5 linked regions of the Homo sapiens genome follow. The protein of the gene in region 3 purifies or fractionates together with the protein of the main gene of each other region. This does not show direct contact. Each region holds a gene or a part of one and is shown on either strand. Other genes may lie near its edges. The genes, in order: TRAM1, LEMD3, SLC6A4, SURF4 and ATL1.

Evidence for each region.
Region 1: the proteins of SLC6A4 (region 3) and TRAM1 purify together in Homo sapiens (affinity purification with mass spectrometry; one large-scale study listed by BioGRID and IntAct). This does not show direct contact.
Region 2: the proteins of SLC6A4 (region 3) and LEMD3 purify together in Homo sapiens (affinity purification with mass spectrometry; one large-scale study listed by BioGRID and IntAct). This does not show direct contact.
Region 4: the proteins of SLC6A4 (region 3) and SURF4 purify together in Homo sapiens (affinity purification with mass spectrometry; one large-scale study listed by BioGRID and IntAct). This does not show direct contact.
Region 5: the proteins of SLC6A4 (region 3) and ATL1 purify together in Homo sapiens (affinity purification with mass spectrometry; one large-scale study listed by BioGRID and IntAct). This does not show direct contact.

The regions. Positions count from the first base shown.
Region 1 is NC_000008.11:70,597,771-70,602,079, forward strand, and holds part of TRAM1 (translocating chain-associated membrane protein 1), read right to left. Parts: intron 2,313-4,309; coding exon 2,249-2,312; intron 486-2,248; coding exon 364-485; intron 242-363; coding exon 125-241; intron 1-124. UniProt on the Homo sapiens protein: Involved in the translocation of nascent protein chains into or through the endoplasmic reticulum (ER) membrane by facilitating the proper chain positioning at the SEC61 channel.
Region 2 is NC_000012.12:65,217,789-65,222,097, reverse strand, and holds part of LEMD3 (inner nuclear membrane protein Man1), read right to left. Parts: intron 3,547-4,309; coding exon 3,479-3,546; intron 1-3,478.
Region 3 is NC_000017.11:30,211,541-30,215,849, reverse strand, and holds part of SLC6A4 (sodium-dependent serotonin transporter), read left to right. Parts: intron 1-135; coding exon 136-239; intron 240-2,982; coding exon 2,983-3,110; intron 3,111-4,309.
Region 4 is NC_000009.12:133,365,762-133,370,070, forward strand, and holds part of SURF4 (surfeit locus protein 4), read right to left. Parts: intron 1,783-4,309; coding exon of another isoform or gene 1,685-1,782; coding exon 1,498-1,684; intron 915-1,497; coding exon 838-914; intron 268-837; coding exon 224-267; intron 1-223. UniProt on the Homo sapiens protein: Endoplasmic reticulum cargo receptor that mediates the export of lipoproteins by recruiting cargos into COPII vesicles to facilitate their secretion.
Region 5 is NC_000014.9:50,558,501-50,563,323, reverse strand, and holds the start of ATL1 (atlastin-1), read right to left. Parts: upstream 3,180-4,823; 5' UTR 3,059-3,179; coding exon 3,025-3,058; intron 2,285-3,024; exon of another isoform or gene 2,198-2,284; intron 1-2,197.

The sequences.
Region 1 (4,309 bases), on a different chromosome or scaffold from region 3:
TGCTGTATAAAAAAATACCTAAAACAGATTTATCACTGAAACTCTTAACTTAATACTATTTCATTAGCAGAGTTTCTAATCTTAGATAAGGAAGGAGAACAACAACCTAAGAGGACATACTTACAGAGATGAGAATGAATGTGCCCCAAACACAGGCAAAAAGGTAGAACGCACTAAGCTGACCAGATTCATTAAACTTGCTGTGTTTTGTTTTGGAGAAGTGCATTCGCCTGTTAATTTTCTAAAAATAAAAACAGCCATTAGTAATTAAGAATAAATTATAAATTATATTTAATATATGACTAGCAGATTATGGAGAGCTAGTACTTTATAAAGTATAGATTTCTAAGACTGCATACTTACATCCAACATATACTCTTGAATTACGGCATGAATAATTATCGCCACTAGCATGTAGAAGAAAACAGTAGCCAAATCTTTGATGCCATAGTAATAAAGGGACACTGATTCAGTAGCTTGTTCTTCTGAAGACCAAAAAGGACACAAATACACAAAAATATACACAAGGTTATAAAAACAGCATTAAGTACAACATAGTTATGGAAACAAAGAAGAATAACCTAATAAAAAAGTTCTATATTAACATCATAAATAACGTGGTCTTGGACATCTTGAGTCTTAGAGGGGCAATGAAAATCAAAACTATCTAGAAATCTAAAGCTTTAGAAATTACTTACAAAGACTTGACACATGTTAGTCACAGCCACCAAAGACCAAAAAACAGGGAAGAGGAGGCCACACTCAATAAACTGATATTATCCCAGGGGTATAAATTAGGTTGATAAAGTTATACTTAGCCTACTGACCTATTTTTTTCAAAGGGCTTTTGAAACTTTCTACTTCTACTTTCTAACTACACACTAAATTATGATTCTGATGAAAAAGCTGATTTGACCTGTATTTGATTTAGTTTTGATCTATAAGCAGCAGAGATAAAGGCAACTACTAAAGTTGTTTTTAATCCTTGCAATTGCTATAATTTTTCAAAACAAATCTTTATCAAATACTTGTGAATTGCTGACACTTATTCTCAAACTTTATGTTTATGGGGAACATATACATAAAAGAGCTTTATTCTTCTCTGGCATATTCAAATTTCAAAACAGTATTGTAGTTTTGAGTAACCTGATAACTAAATCACTAAATTAAATATTTACAAAACTGTACATAACTGAACAAAAACCCAACTCAGGGGCTAGATGCAGTGGCTCACCCCTGTAATCCCAACACTTAGGGAGGCAAGGATTGCTTGAGGCCCAAATTCAAGACTGACCTAGGTAGTATAGTGAGACTCCATCTCTATAGTAAATTGAAAAATTAGCTGGGCGTGGTGGTGTGCCCTTGTAGTCCCACCTACTTGGGAGGCTGACCTGGGAGGATCATTTGAGCCCAGAAGCTGGAGGCTGCAGTGAGCTACGATCACGCCACAGCACTCCTGCCTAGGTAACACATTTGGCAAGACCCTGTCATCTCTTAAAAACACACATATAAATAACAGCAACAACAACAAAAAACCCCAACTAAATGTGGTATACTATATTATCTTACATTCTAAATAAAAAACTGTGCAGGTTTACTGCCTCAACCAAAAAATACCCCATCCCTCACCCATGCTAGTTAATTATATCACTGTATTAAATTACAATCAACTTCCAAGAAACACCTAATTTTTACATAGATTAAGAAATAAGATTTTTGAAATAAAACCTAATAGTTTGGATGCTATTACCAGATAATTCCTAGAGCTTACTAACACATTTTCTGGAATCAAAATAATTGTTAAAAGTAGAGCACAGGAAAAAGTGAAAATAATCTTAGAAGGATTGATTGCTATTACAGGTCCAAAATGTAACTTACAGAAAAACTAAATCTGCCATTGTGCTTTTAGAAGTCTTGAATGAACAATGACATTTAAACAATTTTAAAAAGATCTTTTCTTATAATTTTCTTAGGAAAAAATCAGAAAGCAGAGAAAGCAAAACAAAATTATTTTATGGAATTTCAAGTCCATTCACAAAAATATATAGTAAACAGAAAACATATACAGGGTAAAGTCAATCAAAAACATCAGATCTTGTATTATAAAATCATCACAATAACATTCAGTCACATCATGGATGAGATCTCTGACGATTAATTAACGCAGGACCTAGCATTCATGAAAATTTCCAAGTTTGTTCAACTGAACTTCTATTTACGTAGAAAATTCTTAGCGTAAATTACCTACCTGTTGCTGGGAGGGTGACATTGTACTGAAGAGTAACAAAAATGATAGAAGCTTTTGCCGTTATCTACAAAGAAGGAAAAACAAAGATCAAGTCAATTTGTGACCCTCTCCCAAATAACAGATCGGGGCAAAAACATTATAAAATCTGTCCCTAAATCGAAGCACCAAGGGCCTCCTCGTTCCTGTGGAATCCTGACAGACACAATGGAAATTACTGATTGCCAAGGAGCTAATGTAATTCACTAGAGTACTCTTCTGCGGTTTAGGTAAAATTGTGTAATTCATCCTTAATTTTAAGATTTCAAAAGACATTTTCTGCAGTTCCAGAAAACAGTTATTTGACAAATGATGATTCTCTACTCTAGCCCTATACAATGAATAAAAAGTTCCTATTAAGACAAATTTCAAGTGTAAATTAATAAAATAAAGAGAAGCACAGTTAGCATGAGAAAAGCAGATCAAATATAGGGTCTGTGGTGTGGGTGTGTTAGTATCCCACACACCCAGCAGAGTTAAGTGGTCAATAACTGTTTAACTGACCTGACTACTGGTAAAAGTAAACTGGTCAGAGCAGAAAAATGGAATGCTTACCCAATCTTTACAGGCACCAGGCAAAGTGCTAGACAAAAAAGGACGAGATGAAGATGGATAAAATAATCCCTAATGACAAGGAGCTCCGTGGTGTGAAAAGTACAGGTAAATAAACTGTTATAATACTGTAGAATAAGTGCCAATAGCTTGCACTGTGGGTACTTGGGATAAACAATGAGCTTTGTTGGTTTTTTTTCTGGGGTGGAATGAAATGAAGGAGCTGTGTTTTGCTGGAAAATAGGTGTTCCCTAGGTTCACAAAGGGGGATGAAGAGGACAGTACAGATAGAAGAAACAGAGCGTGGCAAGATCAAGTAGCAGTGAACACAAGGCCAGGCACAGGATGCACATCAGGAAGCGTTAGAAAAGACTAGAAACATTATTGAGTGCTAGAAAGGACTCTGTTTTTTGAGCTAAGTAGTTTAGATTTCACTTTCGCACAAGTGGAGAATGTTGAGGACGGGAAAGTTCATTTATGCCTTTTAGAAGGATTGCTCTCTGTGACCTGCTAAGTGGTATCCCAGGCCCCTTCAGATCCATTCTCCATATTGCAACTAGAATGATTTTCTCATCATGTTACCACATCCCCCTCCCTACCTGCTAAAAATCCTTCACTAGATTCCCATCTTTCTAGGAGAATGTGACCATAGGACTCTATGGTCTGACTCCTCTCTCTGCCTCTGCAGCACCTTCTACCACAGGGTCTCTGCACATGCTGTTCTATCTAAAATACGGTCGGAAAATATTTCCCATCAGATCTCAGTTGCATTACACCTTTTCAAGGAAGTCTCCCTGTCTTCCTAGAGTAGGTCATTTCCTTTGTTAGATTATCTCAGAGAACTGTGTTCCTTTCCTTCAAAGGCATACTCTGGTTGATTATATTAATAATTTCTGTCTCGCCCATTAGAAAGTAAGCTCCATTAGAACTGGGATCATGCCTGTTTCCACTCATCACTATATTTCAGAGCCCAGCATGGGGCCTGGTACATATTAGGTAATTAATCAATATCGCTGAATAAATATCAGTTAAAAGTACAAACCGGAGTGAGCATGCAGCCAAGAATGAAACTTCTGCAAGAGACCACATGAAAGATAATGAGACCTGAACTAAGACAGTGACTGTGGGATACAGGAGGCACTCATAAGGCAAAATAAGGTTTGGTAAGCTAGAAGAAAGAGTACAAGGTTATTTATTGATGCCTACAGCTGAGATTTCTGGGAGATGAGCAGTAAGGCAGCTAAAACCTAAGTCTAGAACTCAGTAGGGAGAACCTAGCTTAAATAAAGATTTGGGAGTCTCTTTCTACAGATAATAGCTGAAGCTGTGAAAATACATAAATCATATATGGAGAGTGCACAGTATTTGTAGAGAAGTAGGACAACATCAGACCCATGGAGAGAACAGGGAAAAAAGCAAAACTTCAAGTCACTGAAACTAAGAAAAAATGGTTAGAGAGACAGAGAAAGAAAT
Region 2 (4,309 bases), on a different chromosome or scaffold from region 3:
ATGGAAACCCTTAGCTAATATCATACTCAATGGTGACAAACTGAAAGATTTTCCTGGCCAGGCATGGTGGCTCACACTTATAATCCCAGCACTTTGGGAGGCCGAGGTGGGTGGATCACGTGAGGTCAGGAGTTCGAGACCAGCCTGGCCAACATGGTGAAACCCCATCTCTACTAACAATACAAAAAAATTAGCCAGGTGTGGTGGCACACACCTGTAATCCCATCTACTCAGGAAGCTGAGACATGTGAATCGCTTGAGCCCAGGAGGTGGAGGTTGTATTGAGCAGAGATCACACCACTGCACTCCAGCCTGGGCGACAGAGTGAGACTCTGTCTCAAGGAAAAAAAAAAAAAAAAAAGAGAGATTTTCCTCTAAGATCAGGAAGAAGGCCAGGGTGGCTATTTTTCCCATCTCTATCTCTCATAGCACTAGACATCCTAGCCAAAGCAATTAGATAAGAAAAAGAAATAAAAAACATCCAAATCAGAAAGAAGTAAATTTATCTCTCTTAGCAAGTGACATAATCTTATACATAGAAAGCCCTAAAGATTTCACCAAAAAAATCTTGTTATTTGGCTGGGTGTGGTGGCTCATGCTTGTAATCCGTGCTTTAGGAGGCCAAGGCAGGAGGATAACTTGAGCCCAGGAGTTTGAGACCAGCCTGGGCAACATAGCAAGGCCCCTATCTCTACTAAAAAGAATCTTGTTAGAATAAACAAATTCAGCTAAGTTGGAAGATATAAAATCAATATACAAAAATCAGTTACATTTCTATACACTAACAACAATCTGAAAAGGAGGTTAAGAAAATAATCCCATTTATAATAGCATTAGAAAGATTTAGATACTTAGGAATAAACTTAACCAGGGAGGTGAAAGACTTATACACTGAAAACTACAAAAAAAAAAAAAAAAGCTGAATGAAATAAAAGACACAAATAAATAGAAAGACATCTCATGTTCGTGAATTGGAAGACTTAATATTACTCAAATTACTATACCACCGAAGGCAATACAGCAATACAAAATCCCAATAGCATTTTTTGCAGAAATAGAAGACATAATCCTAATATCCATATGGAACCACAAAGGCCTCACACTGACTTTAAAACATATGACAAAACTATAGTAATCAAAACAGTATAGTACTAGCATAATAATAGACATAAATGGACCAGTGGAACAAAATAGAGAACCAGAAATAAAGCCACTGATGTATGATCCAACAATCTTCTACAAGGGTGCCAGACTACACAATGGAGAAATGACAATCTCTTCAATAAATGGTGCTAGGAAAACTGGATTTCCACATGCAACAGAATCAAACTGGACCTTTATCTTATACCGTACACAAAAATCAACTCCAAATGGATTAAAGACTTAAATGTAAGACCTGAAACTATATAACTTCTTGAAGAAAACATAGAAGAAAAGCTTCTTGACGTTGATATGGGCAATAATTTCTTGGACATGACACCAAAAGCATAGGCAACAAAAGCAAAAACAGAAAAGTGGGACTACATCAAACTAAAAAGCATATGTGCAGTAAAAAAAAACAGTGAATACAGTGAAAAAGTAACCTACAGAATGGGAGAAAATATTTGCAAACCATATATCTGACAAGGGGTTAATATGCAAAATGCATAAGAAACCCCCACAATTCAATAACAAAATAAATAACCCAACTTAAAAATCAGCAAAGAACTTGAATAGCACTTCTCCAAAGAAGATATACAAATGGCCAACAGATAAGGTATTATATATATGCTGTATACATGCTATATATACACACAGATGTATATGTATATAAATGGTATATGAAAAGATGCTCAACATCAGTAATCATCAGGGAAACACAAATAAAAACACAGTGAGCTATAAGGCAAATAAGTGTTAAGGATAGGCAGAAACTGGAATCCTACTATACTATTGGAAAGAATGTAAAATGGTACAGTCAATATGAAAACAGTATGGAGGTTCCTCAAAAAATAAAAAGTTGAACTACCATATTATCTATCAATCCCACTTCTAGGTATTTGTCTAACAGAATTAAAAGTAGAGTCTCAAAGAAGTACTTGCATTGCCATGTTCATTGATGAATTATTCACAATAGCCAAGAGGTGGAAACAATCTAAAAGCCCATCAACATGACTGGATAAAGAAAATATATGTATACATACAATGAAATTCTACTCAGCCTTAAAAAATGAAGGAAGTACTGTCATGTTACAATATGGATGAAACTTGAAGATATTATGCTAGGTGAAATAAGCCAGTCACAGGACAAAAATTGCAGGATTCAACTTATATGAGGTATCTGTTAATCACACTGATGGAGGAAGAAAGTAAAATGGTGGTTGCCAGGGATATGGAGCAGAGGAAAACGGGGGCCTGCTGTGCAATGGCTATAGAGTTTCAGTCATACAAGATGAAGAAGTTCTAGAGATTTGCTGTATAAGAATGCACATATAGTTGTACGGTATACTTAAAAATATGTTAACAGATTTCACGTTATATATTTTTTACCACAATTTTAACAAGGGGATGGGAGGCATGAAATTTGTATGGCATGACTTGTCCACGTTCAAATGCCAGCCACCTTCCAGGGATCAACGTTTCCATTTGCAAGAACTCAGATCTTTATGAAATTATCTTTATGGAACTGGACCGACAACAAGCTTTCCTGTATGGTTTTCAAATGCCACTTTCCACTTCTGAGAAATCAGAATGACATTTATCCATCTTTAATCTTTTACTACCTTTCATTAAGATTTTCCAGAAATTATTTACAGTAGTTTAGAAAATTCAACAGCAAGTTCTCTTAGTATTTGGAGAAGAAACTGATGTGGGACAGAAGATTTTAAATAAATGGTTAGATATTTACCTGCTCTCTTACATGCTACTACTCACCTATCTCAATTTCCCTATGACCAATGTTTCTTTGTACCCTTTCCAAATTAATATGCATTCTCTCATAGAGAATGTTCTAAAACAAACTAAAAAAAATTGAACAGGTGGCTCACGCCTATAATCCCAGCACTTTGGGAGGCCAAGGCATGCAGATCACTTGAGGCCAGGAGTTTGAGACCAGCCTGGCCAACATAGTGAAACTCCATCTCTACTAAAAATACAAAAAACATTAGCTGGGCGAGGTGGTGGGTGCCTGTAATTCCAGCTACTCGCGAGGCTGAGGCAGGAGAATCGCTTGAACCCCGGTTGCGAACGTTGCAGTGAGTCGAGATCAGCCATTGCACTCCAGCCTGGGGAACAAGAGCGAAACTGTGTCTCACAAAAAAAAAAAAAAAAAAAAAGTTGAACAATTTTACTTTCTCATAACTGCTCATATTATACCAAACAGCAGGCCCAAGCTTTTAACAGTACAATTAAAATAATCAAACATATGATTCTTACAAGTAGCAATGATTTATATAATTTTTTAAAATATAGCTATTAAAATTCTAATTTCATTGCTTACTTTTAAATACGCAGCTGCCTCTTGAACAGAAAGCGTTCTTTGACTAGAACTGCCACATTCATGATCTCCTGGAAAGATTAGCATATTATTAATTTTGAATCAGTACTCTCTTAAACAGAAGAAAACAAACATAATTAATTCAAATATTTTATACATTATACAATTACAGGTTATATTATTATAATCAGTAAAGAAAGAACATGAACAATATTATTTATAATTTCTAGAAGAAATTCCAGTAAGAATATAAACAAAGAAATTCCAGTAAGAATATAAACAAACAACTACCATTACATTAACCACAACTTTTAAATGCATTTCAGTCCAAACAAGAACTTATCTTCCTCTTATATTCCCAACTAAACTGTAAGCTGGTATAGGAACTATGTCACACTGATGCCTATCCACAGATCTTGGCACACAAGACGCCCTCCAGAAATATGTATTATTCCTAAAAGGGAAAAAATTCAGCATATTCATTGTGCTAACTTAACTTACACATCTATTCTTAAAGCTAATCATTTAAGGGTTCAAATAAGTTTGAATTTATTAATGAATTAAAGTATGTGCATTTTCAGAGTATAACTAATCCTATCTTTAGCAAGGGGTGTGCATGCCTTAAAAACTGTTATAACATAACCAGGTGTGGTAGTATGCATCTGTTGTCCCAATTATTCGGGAAGCAGAGGCGAGAAGACAGCTTGACTCCATAAATTTGAAGCTGCAGTGAGCTGTGATCACCCTACTTCACTCCAGCCTGAGTGACAGAAAAGATCCTGTCTCAAAAAAATCTTAAAAAACAAAAATTGTTATAACAGACCAACAGGGAAA
Region 3 (4,309 bases):
CCTGGAATGAGCCTTAAAAGCTGTTTTTCTGCCTCTGCACTTAGCCACATGGAGGCAGGAGTGGCGACCCTGTTGGTGCCAGGGTAAGCCTGTGTCTCCCCCTCACCCCATGCCCTTACCCCTGCTGTGTTCCAGGTGTGGATAGATGCAGCCGCTCAGATCTTCTTCTCTCTTGGTCCGGGCTTTGGGGTCCTGCTGGCTTTTGCTAGCTACAACAAGTTCAACAACAACTGCTACCAGTGAGTATCTGGGGTCCCCAAGCAAAGCTTGAAAGTGGCGTGAGTGAAAGTCAGCTAGTGTGGAGGAAGGTGATTGGACCGACGGCCTCGAATCTGGCCAGGCTTAGGCCTTGATACCACTGCCCCTCAGGGGTGCTGCAGGCCCCTGACCAGCTCACCCATGGCCAGAGCACTCATCCAGGCCGTGGCTTCACCTGGGCCACTCAGGCTGAGAGGGGCCCCATGCCCTTCGGTTTTGTCAGCGCTCCTGTATATAAAAATAATAAGAGGCTGGACATGGTGGCTCACGCCTGTAATCCCAGCACTTTGGGAGGCCAAGGCAGGTGGATCACCTGAGGTCAGGAGTTCCAGGCTAACCTGGCCAACATGGCGAAACCCTGTCTGTACTAAAAATACAAAGATTAGCCAGGCATGGTGTTGCACACCTGTAAGCACAGCCACTTGGGAGGCTGAGGCACGAGAAGTTGCAGTGAGCTGAGATCTTGCCACTACACTCCAGCCTGAGTGACAGAGCAAGATTCCAGAAAGAAAGAAAGAGAGAGAGAGAAAGAGAGAGAGAGAAATAAAGAAAGAAAGAAAGAAAGAAAAAAGAAAGAAAGAAAGAAAGAAAGGAAGGAAGGAAAGAAAAAGAAAGAAAGAAGAAAGAAGGAAGGAAAGAAAGAAAGAAAGAAAGAGAGAGACGGGGTGCGGTGGCTCCCACCTGTAATCTCAACACTTTGGGAGGCCGAGGCGGGTGGATCACGAGGTCAGGAGATCGATACCATCCTGGCTAACACGGTGAAACCCCATCTCTACTAAAAATACAAACAAATTAGCCGGGCGTGGTGGCGGGCGCCTGTAGTCCCAGCTACTCAGGAGGCTGAGACAGGAGAATGGCGTGAACCCAGGAGGTGGAGTTTGCGGTGAGCCGAGATTGTGCCACTGCACTCCAGCCTGGGCGACAGAGTGAGATTCCATCAAAAAAAAAAAAAAAAAAGAAAGAAAGAAAGAGAAATTGCAAAGCAAGTTTACAAAAAGCTGCAACATACAATTAAGTAGTTAGGTTTAACTAGTCAATGTGTTTAACAATAAAAATTGTAATGTGATTATTTGTATTATGTATAAACAAAAAGTATGATGATCACATTATTTTGACTAACACAAAATACCATAATTTTTCTTTTCTTTTCTTTTTTTTTTTTTTTTTTTGAGACGGAGTTTCGCTCTTGTTGTCCAGGCTGGAGTGCAATGGCGCAATCTCAGCTCACCACAACCTCTGCCTCCCGGGTTCAAGCGATTCTCCTGCCTCAGCCTCCCGAGTAGCTGGGATGACAGGCATGCGCCACCACGACTGGCTAAATTTGTATTTTTAGTAGAGATGGGGTTTCTCCATGTTGGTCAGGCTGGTCTCCAACTCCCGACCTCAGGTGATCCACCTGCCTCAGCCTCCCAAAGTGCTGGGATTACAGGCGTGAGCCACTGTGCCCAGCCAAAATGCCATAATTTTTGCAACAAAATCCTATTTCAGAAATTTTAACAGAACAGGAAATGTTACACCAATTATGGTTTTAAATATCACCCACTGGGCCAGGTGCAGTTGCTCAAACCTGTAATCTTAGCCCTTTGGGAGGCTGAGGCAGGAGGATCACTTGAGCCTAAGAGTTTGAGTCCAGCCTGGGCAACATGGTGAGATCCCATCTCTACAAAAAATTTAAAAATTAGCTGAGTGTGGTGGTGCATGCCTATGGTCCCAGCTCTTCAGGAGGCTGAAGCAGGAGGATTGCTTGAGCCCGGGAGGTTAAGGCTGCAGTGAGCTGTGTTCATGCCACTGCACTTCAGCCTGTGCAACAGAGGGAGACCCTATCTCAAAAATAAATAAATAAATAAATAAATAAATGTCACCCATCATCTTTAGACTTAATTTTAATTGATCACAGATGGCAGCATCCATCAATCTCTTTGTGCTATGCATAAGATAATTGTAAAACTGATTTTTTTAAAGGTGGGAGGGAGATTCACATGTACCCTAAGCAATGTGGCCTTGCACTGGGACACCACCCTGCAGTTGTATGATGAGGCTGTCATTTAAAAGTGTGAGATCAGGAGTTTGAGACCAGCCTGGCCAACATGGGGAAACCCCATCTCTACTAAAAATACAAAAATTAGCCAGGCGTGGTCGTGGGCGCCTGTAATCCCAGCTACTTGGGAGGCGGAAGCAGGAGAATCACCTGAACCCGGGAGGCAGAGGGTACAGTGAGCTGAGATCAAGCCACTGCACTCCAGCCTGGGCAATAGAGCAAGGCTCTGTCTCAAAAAAAAAAAAAAAAAAGAAAAAAAAATGAGGGTATCTCTCTGGCTGGCAGTCTGTGACTTAGTTTGAAGATAAAGCCTAAATCTGAGGATCTCACAAATGTGAGGCTCAGGCCCTGTCCTGGCCCCCACTCCAACCTGGGCCCTGCTCCAGAACAAGGCTGGTTTGAAATGGAGAGGTCTGTGCTAGCAGGATTGCCTTTTAAAGCACCCCTGACTGCTCTTCTCCCTCCACCATGTGTGGTGGTCATGGCAGTCAGAGCTTCAGGCCTCGGCAGCTGGGTTCTGGGAGAAGGCGAAGGGACTCCGGGACAGGCTTGAGGTTCCTTGAGTTCAGCCTGCTTGTCCTTGCTGTGGCCGCCCTGTCTAAGGCAGGGCAGGCACACGGACAGATGCTCCTTAGACCCCTGATCTTGGAACTGTCTCAGGCGGCCCCTTGGGTTTTCCCCTCCAGAGATGCCCTGGTGACCAGCGTGGTGAACTGCATGACGAGCTTCGTTTCGGGATTTGTCATCTTCACAGTGCTCGGTTACATGGCTGAGATGAGGAATGAAGATGTGTCTGAGGTGGCCAAAGACGCAGGTAGGACCTCGGGTTCTATGCAGGTCCCTTGCTCCTACTGAGTTGCTTTGCTTTGAATCTTTGTAAAGATCTAACTTTTGATTTATTTCTAAATGTTCCTGAAATTTTCCAAAGAAGGCTGGGCATGGTGGAGTTCAAGACCAGCCTGGGCAACATAGTGAGACCCTGCCTCTATAAAAAAATAAATGAGCTGGGCATGGTAGTGCACACCTATAGTCCCAGCTACTCAGGAGGCTGAGGTGGGAAGATTGCTTGAGCCTGGGAGGTCAAGGCTACAGTGAGCCATGATCACACCACTGTACTTCAGCCTGGGTGACAGAATAAGACCCTGTTTCCAAAACATTTTTTATTCAAAGATTTGAGAGAAGCTCGATGCCTTAGAGATCTTTCCATGTGTTCAGGCCATGCAGGGACAGGGCAACTCCCTTGGCACCCAGTTCTGGGGCCTCCAAAATCTATGGGCTTGAAATGATGACTCTGATGATGGCTTTAAAACCAGTGGGTTTGCTTCCTGTGATGGTCTTGTGATGGCTCAAAGTCTAGTAAGCAAATATCATTTATCCTTAGAACTGCCCCTTGCAGAAAAAGAAAATCTAGCCAATATGACCACTCTATTTTACCGTGAAGTTTTTGTGGAAAAAGAAAAGAGCAACAGAGGGAGAAAAAACAGATGATGGCATCTAGTGGGCGAGGTCCCAGGGCCTTCTTGTTACAAGCATGTTAGCATGCTTGTATCTTTGGCCTGATTCGGTGCTTTGACCAACCCCATACCCCAAACGAGGGCACCCCTAGCTAACCCATGAGAGGCTGAAGACATGTCCCTCACACTTTCAAAAGGGACTTTAAAATAGAAAGAGGTCTTTATTCCAAAGCCTCTGTGACTCTACGGAAATCAATTTAACATTTCCTACTGTTCTGAAGCTGAAGACATCAGAGGGGGCTAACTGTCATGGACTTTAGAAATATCAATCCTGGTCCTGAGAAATCCCATGGAATTGTTATATGGTGGAAACTCTTATTCTCATGTGCAGCTTTGCCAGTCTCTGGGTCTTGGATCTGTTACCCACCCCCAGGGTTAATGGAGGGCACACAGTTTTCAAGATGGAAGCCCCACCCTTCCTGCCTCCCAGGAACTGGGGTGGCCACGTCAGACGGAGTAGAGTGTGAGGACGCACTTGGTGTGTGTCAAAACCTGATTC
Region 4 (4,309 bases), on a different chromosome or scaffold from region 3:
AGGACCCAAAGTGTTTCAGATTTTGGTATATTTGCATTATATACTTATTGGCTGAGCATCCCAAATCTGAAAATCCAAAACCTGAAATGCTCCAATGAGCACTTCCTTTGAGCGTCATGTTGGTGCCCAAGATTTTTCCCATTTTGGAGCATTTCAGACTTTGGATTTGCAATGCTCAACCTGTAGAAGGAGCGTATACTAAAACCAACCAGAATGCACATACCTCATCAAAAACTTCAAGTCCCATAAAATGCTGTAGGCAATCGTCTGAGGGGAAAGAAGAGAGAGATACTTGAGTCTCAGCCTTTCCAAAGGCATTTCCACAGACTTCATAATACATTAGGCCGTCTCTCCAATGTCAGCTGGAGTCTAAAACACACAAAACCATTGTAGGAGACCGAGGACAGATCTAAGCTCAAAAATGTGGTTCTGTATTTCTCAAGAAATGTGCTATGATGTTCCAGAGAACAAAGTGATTCTGAGACCACTGATGTGGATTCAGATATTCTGTTCCCAGCATTTCATTCTGAATAACCAAGTATTCTTCTTTATGAAGCAACGTGATAACAAGACAGCATCCTGGCTGCAGCCAAGCTCGAGACTTCCCTTGTCACGGTAATCATAGAAATGGGACAAAAGATGGCCCAGTACCGAATGACCTGCCTCTACAGCCCTGCTTGGGCTCACGACTTCCCCAGAAGAGAAAGGAGCTCCAGGCAGTCAGAGACATGCAGGGGGCTGAAGGGGGAGTGACACTGAACCCTCAAGGATGTCTTTTCAGAAGCTCTGCTCCACCAGAGCAAAGAGAAGGGAGCCCCGACCACGCGGCCCGTGTACCTGCAGAGCTATGATTCCAAAGAGCCCGAAGCAGGCGTACTGCACGAAGTTCCTGCTCAACACCAGGACGCAGCCAGCTGGAGAGAAGGACAAGGGTTAGGGGGCCTGAGGGTGGGTGCCGGCGGGGAGCACTGTCTTGATACACTGCTACCTCACCTGGCCCTTAGGTCCAGAGGCAGCCAAACCACCTACCCAAGCAAAAGACAACTTCTGGAAGAATTAATGATAGGCAAGGACCACACATGGTAAGCTGACTAGACTTATCACAAACACCAGAAAGTGGAGCCCTTGCCGTCATAAAGAATGGGCTGTTTCCCACAATCAGCTCCCAAGTCAGCCACCCACCTGAGGTAGGCAATTAACTGCTCTACTGTGGACTGCCAGCCAGACTCCAGCATCTCCTGCTTTGGGTCCCTGACAGGGACCATGTCCTATTTCCTTAGCAAGCTCTAAAGCAGTGAGCTCAGGGCTAGAGACTAAGCGTCCCCACCAAGGCTTGCAGAACCGGACTCCTGGCCTGGCACAGCTGAGCTGGAGAAGAGGGGAATGGAGGGGGGACAGCAGTCCAGGAGACCCCCGAGTTCACACACAGCCTCCCAACTGCTAACGATCATGGAACAAGACGCCCAGTGAATCCTGACCACCCGCAGAGCCACTCACTCAGCTGTCCCAGCAAGTTGAGGAAGACGAAGGACGAGGCCAGCAGGTAGCCGCAGTTCCAGGTGGTGTCGATGTAGTCGCGCTGCTCGCTCCACTGGAACCACATACGGATGCCGTCCTCCAGGAAGGTGCTGATCAGACAGAGGCGCGCCACGTGGGGCAGGTACTGCTTTGTGACACGGAGGAACTGCAGGGCCACAGAAACCCAAGGGTGAGGTGGCTGCGGCGGGGAGCACCAGGCCGCTGCCAGGCACGTCCTTGGGCGGGGTGTGTGAGGAACAGACGCTGTGGAAGGCAAGAGCTCTTGTCAGCCCCGGTGCCTTCCCAGGGCAGACTAGGGGGCTCTCAGTGCTTGCTCCTGAGCGCTACCCTGTGAGTCTGGACACATGCAACAATCCAAGGATCAGTCCCGGAGATGCATGACTTGACGTTAGGCCCTCTGGGGCAGATCCTATAGGGCAGCAGCCCTAACACTCTGCTACCGTGATTTCCCCCAGTGCCTCGGCAGGCAACTACAGTCTTCCAAGGTGGCACTGCCACAAGACACAGAGCTGCTCTTTTCGGTCAAAGGCATTTACAAGTTGGAATCACAGAATGACATCTGAAAAGGCACTTAGAGGTCATCTATCCAACGTTTCTGCACCTCAGCACTACTGGCATCTGAGGCCAGGCCACTCTTTGCCGTGGGTCATCCTGGGTGCTGCAGGCTATGACGCACGACATGTCTGCCCACGACATGCCAGCAGCAGCCTCCCTCCTGAGGCACCGCTGCACTTTGCCAGGCATCTCCGCTGCTCTGGTCCAACCCCTCACCTTACAAATGGCTATATTAAACCCAGCGGGAAGGGGTTCCCCTAGGCTTCGCAGACCTGATGGTGCAATGCCAAGACTTGACCCCAGCCTGCAGGTCACACATGGCTGAGGTGCCAAGGGCCTGGACCTCCCAGCCTGCCCAGTGACGCCCAGAGTACCCTGACAGAACAAGGGTTGGCTTAGGTGACAGCCAGGGTGCCACACCTAGAGGGCCACATGGTTGACTGAATAGTAAGATCACGTTTACAGTTATCCGAAAATCTCCAGAGCAGCAGGAGGAGGCCCCAGGCTCTGGACAGCGCATGTGTGCTGTTGCAAACCAGGGCTGGCGCTTCCCAGCCCGACGGAGCTCTCCCCTGCAAGCTCAGGATCTGACGTGGGGACTGTGTGTGCAGCAACCGTCAGCGCAGCATGAAGCTGGTACCGCTAATGGCTAGAAAGCGCTGGGATTTTGTCAAAGCCTGCATAATCTCGAGCAAATTAAAACACACTAACAAATGGGATGGACAGCTGTTTCAACAGCAATGAAACGCAAGTGTGTGAAATCACTGTCAAATGTCAAAGGGAAAGAAAACATTTATGACTTCCTGCTGTGCTGTGAGTCAGGTCATTTATGACGGCTGGGTTAGGTAGCCAACATGCACTATCGGATGCCAGGTACAAATGTCACGCAGGTTCACCCCATGCACTTTTCTCTTATCACCCATGCAAAACTGAGATATAAAGTGAAAGAAATACTGTAACACAGCAAGTCCTTCGGAGAAAGATCAGGGGACCCATCCACCAACGCATGTTGGGAAGCCAGAGTCTAAAGAGCACCCGAGAGGCTGACCCCCACGGGAGGCGAGCGAACGTCAGCTGCACAGGCCTCCTAGGGCTGACTAAACCTACTGTTGGAACAAAGGAAGATATGCGTGTTTCTTATTTTTCAGCATTTTTAAAAGTTGCTTCAAAGTCCTAGACACTGCTGAAGCTGCCCATCTCAGTTACCACGCCCCTGGGTGTTCAGGTCACCCTCCAGCCTGTCAGGTGGGGCCCTGACTAGGTCAGCACTGCAGATTGGCTCCCATGTGGCAGAGAACGGAGGCAGAGATTACAAAGCCAGGTGGCCATTCTCCCCAAACCCACTGCGCCCTGCAGTGTCAGTTCTGCACACATTTACTCAGCCTTTGACTCCACGGAAGTGATGGGAGAAATCACAGTGACCGACAGATACCCAGAGAATCACCAAGTGGGTTTGGGAGATGAAGTGCAGGTGGAGGTTCTGAGGCCCTGTGATCTCATCCTGCCCTGGTACCATCCAGCCAGCACACCGTGTGACCTGGACACGCCCAGTTACTTTTTTGAGAGTGTCTCTACTATCCTGCAGTAGAGTGAGGCCACCTGAACTAATGGTTGGTAAGATGCTTTCCAACTTTACTAGGAGGAAGACCTTGTTTCACTTTTTATTTTTAAAAAGGCCCCAAATACTCCCCTGTGAATTTTAGGGCCAATGCAGAGAACCAGCACAAGATGCCCATGTGCACAGTGTGACGCAACCTGCATCACACTGGGTGGTGGGAAAGGTGACGCCACACACCCTCCCCAGGTTCTGCCTCATGGCCCCGTTGCTCTCTAAATGCCCAGCAACAGTGTAATCACCCATATTCCATGGAAGAGAGAAAGCACACCACCGTGGCACACGATGTGCCACTGCTCTCAAGGAATGGCCTCACATCGTGGCCCAGCTGGGAAGCCCCAGCAAGGACACAAGCCTTTATCTCATCTGAACCTGGGGAAAAGCAACCACTGGGAAGGAAGAGCTCAACAGGAGGCTGTCCAGACCTCTGAGATGAGACGGAGCCGTGGTGGGACTCCCAGGGCAGGGTGTGGGTGTGGGGCGTGGACCCCAACAGCAGCAGAGAGGTAGACTGCAATCCATACCCAAGACAGACACCAGAGGTGTTCTGACTTGCTTCTAAAATGAGAGCTGTGAGCCACTCACTGGCCTGAGATGAGC
Region 5 (4,823 bases), on a different chromosome or scaffold from region 3:
TGTTATAGAAAATAAATTAGGAAAAAAACCCAGATTCTAATTTCAGTCCTTTTACTTACCAAATACATGACTTTCACCAAATCATTTAACTCACCTCTGAGTTAGTTTTTTCATCTGCAAAATAGTGATATGCCCTAAGACACATACTTAAGAGGTTGAAGATCAAATGCAATAATGCAGATGAATATGCATTGAAACTGTAGTTCTATAATATAATACAGAAGGTATTATCCATTCAACAAAGAGATAGAAGATAAAGGAATCTGAATTCAAACTGCCAGAGCAGGAATCCTGGGTCAATCATCTACTAGCTTTACCTTTTAATATGTAAAATGAGTATTACAGCACCTATTTCATATGACATTAGCTTAACGATGTTGGCTACTATTGCTGTTACTAAATGCCTACTGTGTTAGGCATTCTATTAGATACTGGTAATAAAATGGAATTAAGACTGACAGGGCTAATATCTGTGCCAAAACCTCTATCTCCTACTCCATCTACTACATTTTCTAAGTCATTTATGTCATATGTACTTAACAGCAAAGAAAAATCTAAGTAGTAAAGCATTTCCATAGAACATCAAGATAAGAGTCCAGAATTCCACTCTTTCTTTTCTATAATAATTTCCAGTAAACACTATAGTGATTCTAGTATTTCTTTTCCTAATCCATCACTTGAGTTGAAACTTTCCTGATGACTTCTGGGTAAACTATCTGAGATGTTTCTATCAAATGTAAATAATCTAAGGTAGTATTTCTCAAAGTAACACCTAAAGACCATCTGCTTCCCAATCACCTAAAATGCTAATTAAAAGGCAGATTTCTAGGCCCTCTTTCAGATCTATTGATTCCAAAGCTCTGGCTGGAAGATGGGAGAGTCTGCATTTCTAATAAGTCCCTGTGTGATTTTTATGAAAACCGGATGTGAGAACCATGTTCCCAAGAGGGAAAAACTCCCACTACATAAGAAGTTTATAAGGCCGGGAATGGTGGCTCGCTCCTGTAATCCCAGCACTTTGGGAGGCCGAGGCGGGCGGATCACGAGGTCAGGAGATCGAAACCATCCTGGCTAACATGGTGAAACTCTGTCTCTACTAAAAATACAAAAAATTAGCCGGGCACGGTGGCAGGCGCCTGTAGTCCCAGCTGCTCGGGAGGTTGAGGCAGGAGAATGGCGTGAACCCGGGAGGTGGAGCTTGCAGTGAGCCCAGAAGGCACCACTGCACTCCAGCCTAGGCGACAGAGCAAGACTCCATCTCAAAAAAAAAAAAGTTTATAGCCAAAGGAAATTCTGCGCAATAATGATCCAAAGCTTCATAAAGGAGAAAAATTTTAATCCTCAGAATACATTTTCACATGCTTCTGTTAACAGGGTGGAGACAACAATTCATGGAGACTGAGACCAAAAGTGACTTGAATATACGCACCCTAATTGTGTGTGTTCAATAAATTCCTATTCTAGAGGCCAAGAGAACGGGTGGAAAGGGGATACACTGCAAATGCTTACTTAAATTTCAGAAGAAGGAAATAAAACTTATTGCAATAGTCAGGTAGGTCTGTTAAAACTGAAGTTTCATGATCTCAGAAAATGGAACCACTTTCTCTTAAACTCAGCTAAGTCATGACAGACCTCCCCGCTCCAACTCTCCATGCCTACCACAAACCTTGGATAATCTCCCAAATGTAAACCTTGTCTACCGTATCCTGTGACCATTAGAACAATCAGAGGCAAGGAGATACACGGTCTTTTGATTAAAGTAAACTGAAATAACCAATTAAAATTTACATTTGTGCCTCTCGCTCAAATAAACAGTTATAGAAGAGCTCTCACTGAGATGTGGAACAGAATCAAGCAGCTCTGAACTTTTCAAATAATAACAACTGTTATTTCCAAATAACAATTTCTAAATAACAAGCTGATGAACAAAATATTTATTTACCCACCAAGCCACAGTAGCCTGAGACATTCTCTGGTTCAGATAATAAAATAAATGCCTTAGAGGGCTTTCGTTCCTAAGATGCTGGTGAGTTTAGCACTGTGACTGCAAGAAATCGGGAACCTACGACAAAAAGACGCCCAGCCTGCCCACACTAACCGTCCAGAACTAGGTCTGGAGCAGCAAGGCGGGCGGGGCCGCGATTTCTTCCGCATCGCTGCGCCCGTTCTTCTCCGCCTGCGTGAGCACCGCCCACCCACTCGCGGTGTGAACATACTGGGTCTCGCCTCTCCTTTCCCCTCCCCTCGGCCTGGTGCTGAATCATGAGCCCAATGTCTCCAAAAGGTAAAATCAAAGAACAAAGCCACCCTTGGGGCTGGTCTGAATGGGGTACCACGTCGGGGTGGGGCAGAAGGCTGGAAACCACAACTTTGCTCTCCTTCTTCCCCAATTCCCCCACCCAACCCCCAAATTAAGAGGAGTACTGCAGTGCTCAGGAATTCCCAAGAGGGTGGCCCTTCTCCCAGTTGCTCGGTCTGCTACCGTCCGTCCGGGACCCGGCGCGCTCCGCCTCATTGTTCCAGCGCGCCGCCCGCCGCCCGCCGCCGGGAGCCCGCGCCCTGCAGAGCCAGCGAGTTGGCGGCTCCCGGGGAGGGGGGTTGGGGCTTGGCCTGCTCTAGATCCCCGACCCCTCGCCCCTCTGGGGCCGAGTAACAACAGCCCCCTGCCCACCCCCATAGCCTTCCTCCCAACCGATCGCTAAGGCGGAACCCACAAGTCCCCGGAGGCGCCTGGTGGGTGCTGTCCAAATGCTGGGAGGAGGCGGGAGGGGGGTGGGGAAGAAGGAGCTGGAGGCCCGGCCTGCGCGAAGCTGCAGCCCTCACCCCGACAGCGCGATTCGGTGACGCGGGTACCGCTCGGCCATGGTTCCTCCGCCCAAACAGGGAGCGGCTCGGCTACGGCCCGTCTCCCAGCCGTGGACGCAGGCACCTAGCAGCCCTTGGCCCTCCCTGTCTCCACAGAAGCAGAAAGTGGAGGGCCAGAAGACCCCGTGCAGGCTGCAGAAGTTCTCATTTGCTACTCACCCCAACTGTTTCTGTCCCTGCGGTTCTTGGCCATGGTGGTCCAGGAGCTGGTGGCGGTGAGGCGCTGTCACTGCGCTCGCTGCCTTCTCCGGGGCCGCAGGTTGCTGGCGGTGGGAGGCTCCGTGCCCGCGCTGGGCGCAGTTCGCTCAGACTCTGAGGATGTTGCTGTGGCGCTGGTGGGAAGGAGTGGGGAGGAAAAGGGAGGAGAAAGCAGATGAACCAAGCTCAGCATCACAAGCCCGAGTTCACACAGATACCAGCGTCACACCCTCCCTACCTCAGTCCACCCCCAGACCGTGAAGACAGTGATAGACCACGTACCGCAACATTTTCAACGGAAAACACAAACAAATAAACAGCACCCCCCTCGAACACACTCTCAAAGAATTTAACAGCGTTATCAGAAATACACAAACCGATATACTGCATGATTCTGGATGTTCAAATACCTGTTTCAAGCACGGTTATACATTAGTACAAACAAGCTGGCAACATTTATATAGCCAAAGTAGCTAAAATAATGTGCATTTATCTACGAGGCACCCATTTTTTTTTCCATTTTAAAAGCAAGGTCATGTTAGTAAAGAGGGTATCATGCATTTTTGTATATGTATACTGAGTAGTTTGTCTTAAAATTAGAATAGCAAAATTTATATCAAGAAGATCAAGATAAATGAAAGCTGTAGATTCATTACGATCTGTAACTCAATATCCACTGGGTAAAATTTCCCACTAGATTTGCAAAGATAAGGTCCAGACCTATAGTCCAATAGCAATTATTTGAGCTGAAATCATACTACATAGTCTGGGTATGGGTGGGCCCTGGCAGCCATAAAGGTTGCAGACAATTTTGAAAGGAAAAGAAAAAAAATAAAAATACTTTCAATCTTTCCCTTTTCACTGCTTTCTCTCTGCTACAAACTTAGTTGTTTTCAGTAACCTGGAAACACTGTCCCTTTATACTACCTCAACCTCAAGATACCATCATGCCGTCCCTTACAGTTTCCTTCTGCCATTTGGTTGTTACTCACACTCTGTACTGATCGGTTCTTAGGAGATCACTGCCAGCCTCTTAATTACCAGATCCATGATCTCTGCTAATTCCTCATGGTAAGCAACTCCTCACGCTACACTCTCTCAATGTAATTTACTATGATGGCTTCAGACAGGACCTCCATGCTGATGATTCCCAAATCTATACTTGTAGTCTTCTGCCCTCTAGAAGAGAGGACATTATACCAGAGGTGTGTTTATAACTGCCTAAGGTTATCCTCACGTTGTTTTCCTACTGACATTTGAACATCAACATATCTGAAAACAAACTCCCCCACCACTGCCAAATCTTATGCATTATATTTCAGTTACTGGTTCTAGTGACTGCAGAGTCGTGAACACTGTAACCAAGTTTACAACATGGTTTTAAAGAAGTCTGTGCTCAACAGAGTTGAAATGACATTAATGAAACAACATAGGAAGACAGACATTATCTCATCCTTATACCTATAAACCAAGTTCATAGAACAAAAGAGAAGTGTGGTCTGCTTTTCTTCTTATATTCCTTTACTATCATTCTCAGCTTACATTCCAGCCTGAAAATCCCTTTCATATGAATCCCATTTTTAAGAGTACAATAGATTACACACAAAAAAGAAAAAATTTATATAATTCAACACCTATGCCCAATTGAAAAAGAAATTAATTTTTTAAAAACCTGTTGTGTTTATAATTAGTAAGTAATCTGCAGGTGAATACTTTGAGACTGTGTGAATCACAAAAAAATGCTTAAATAAATAGCTCTC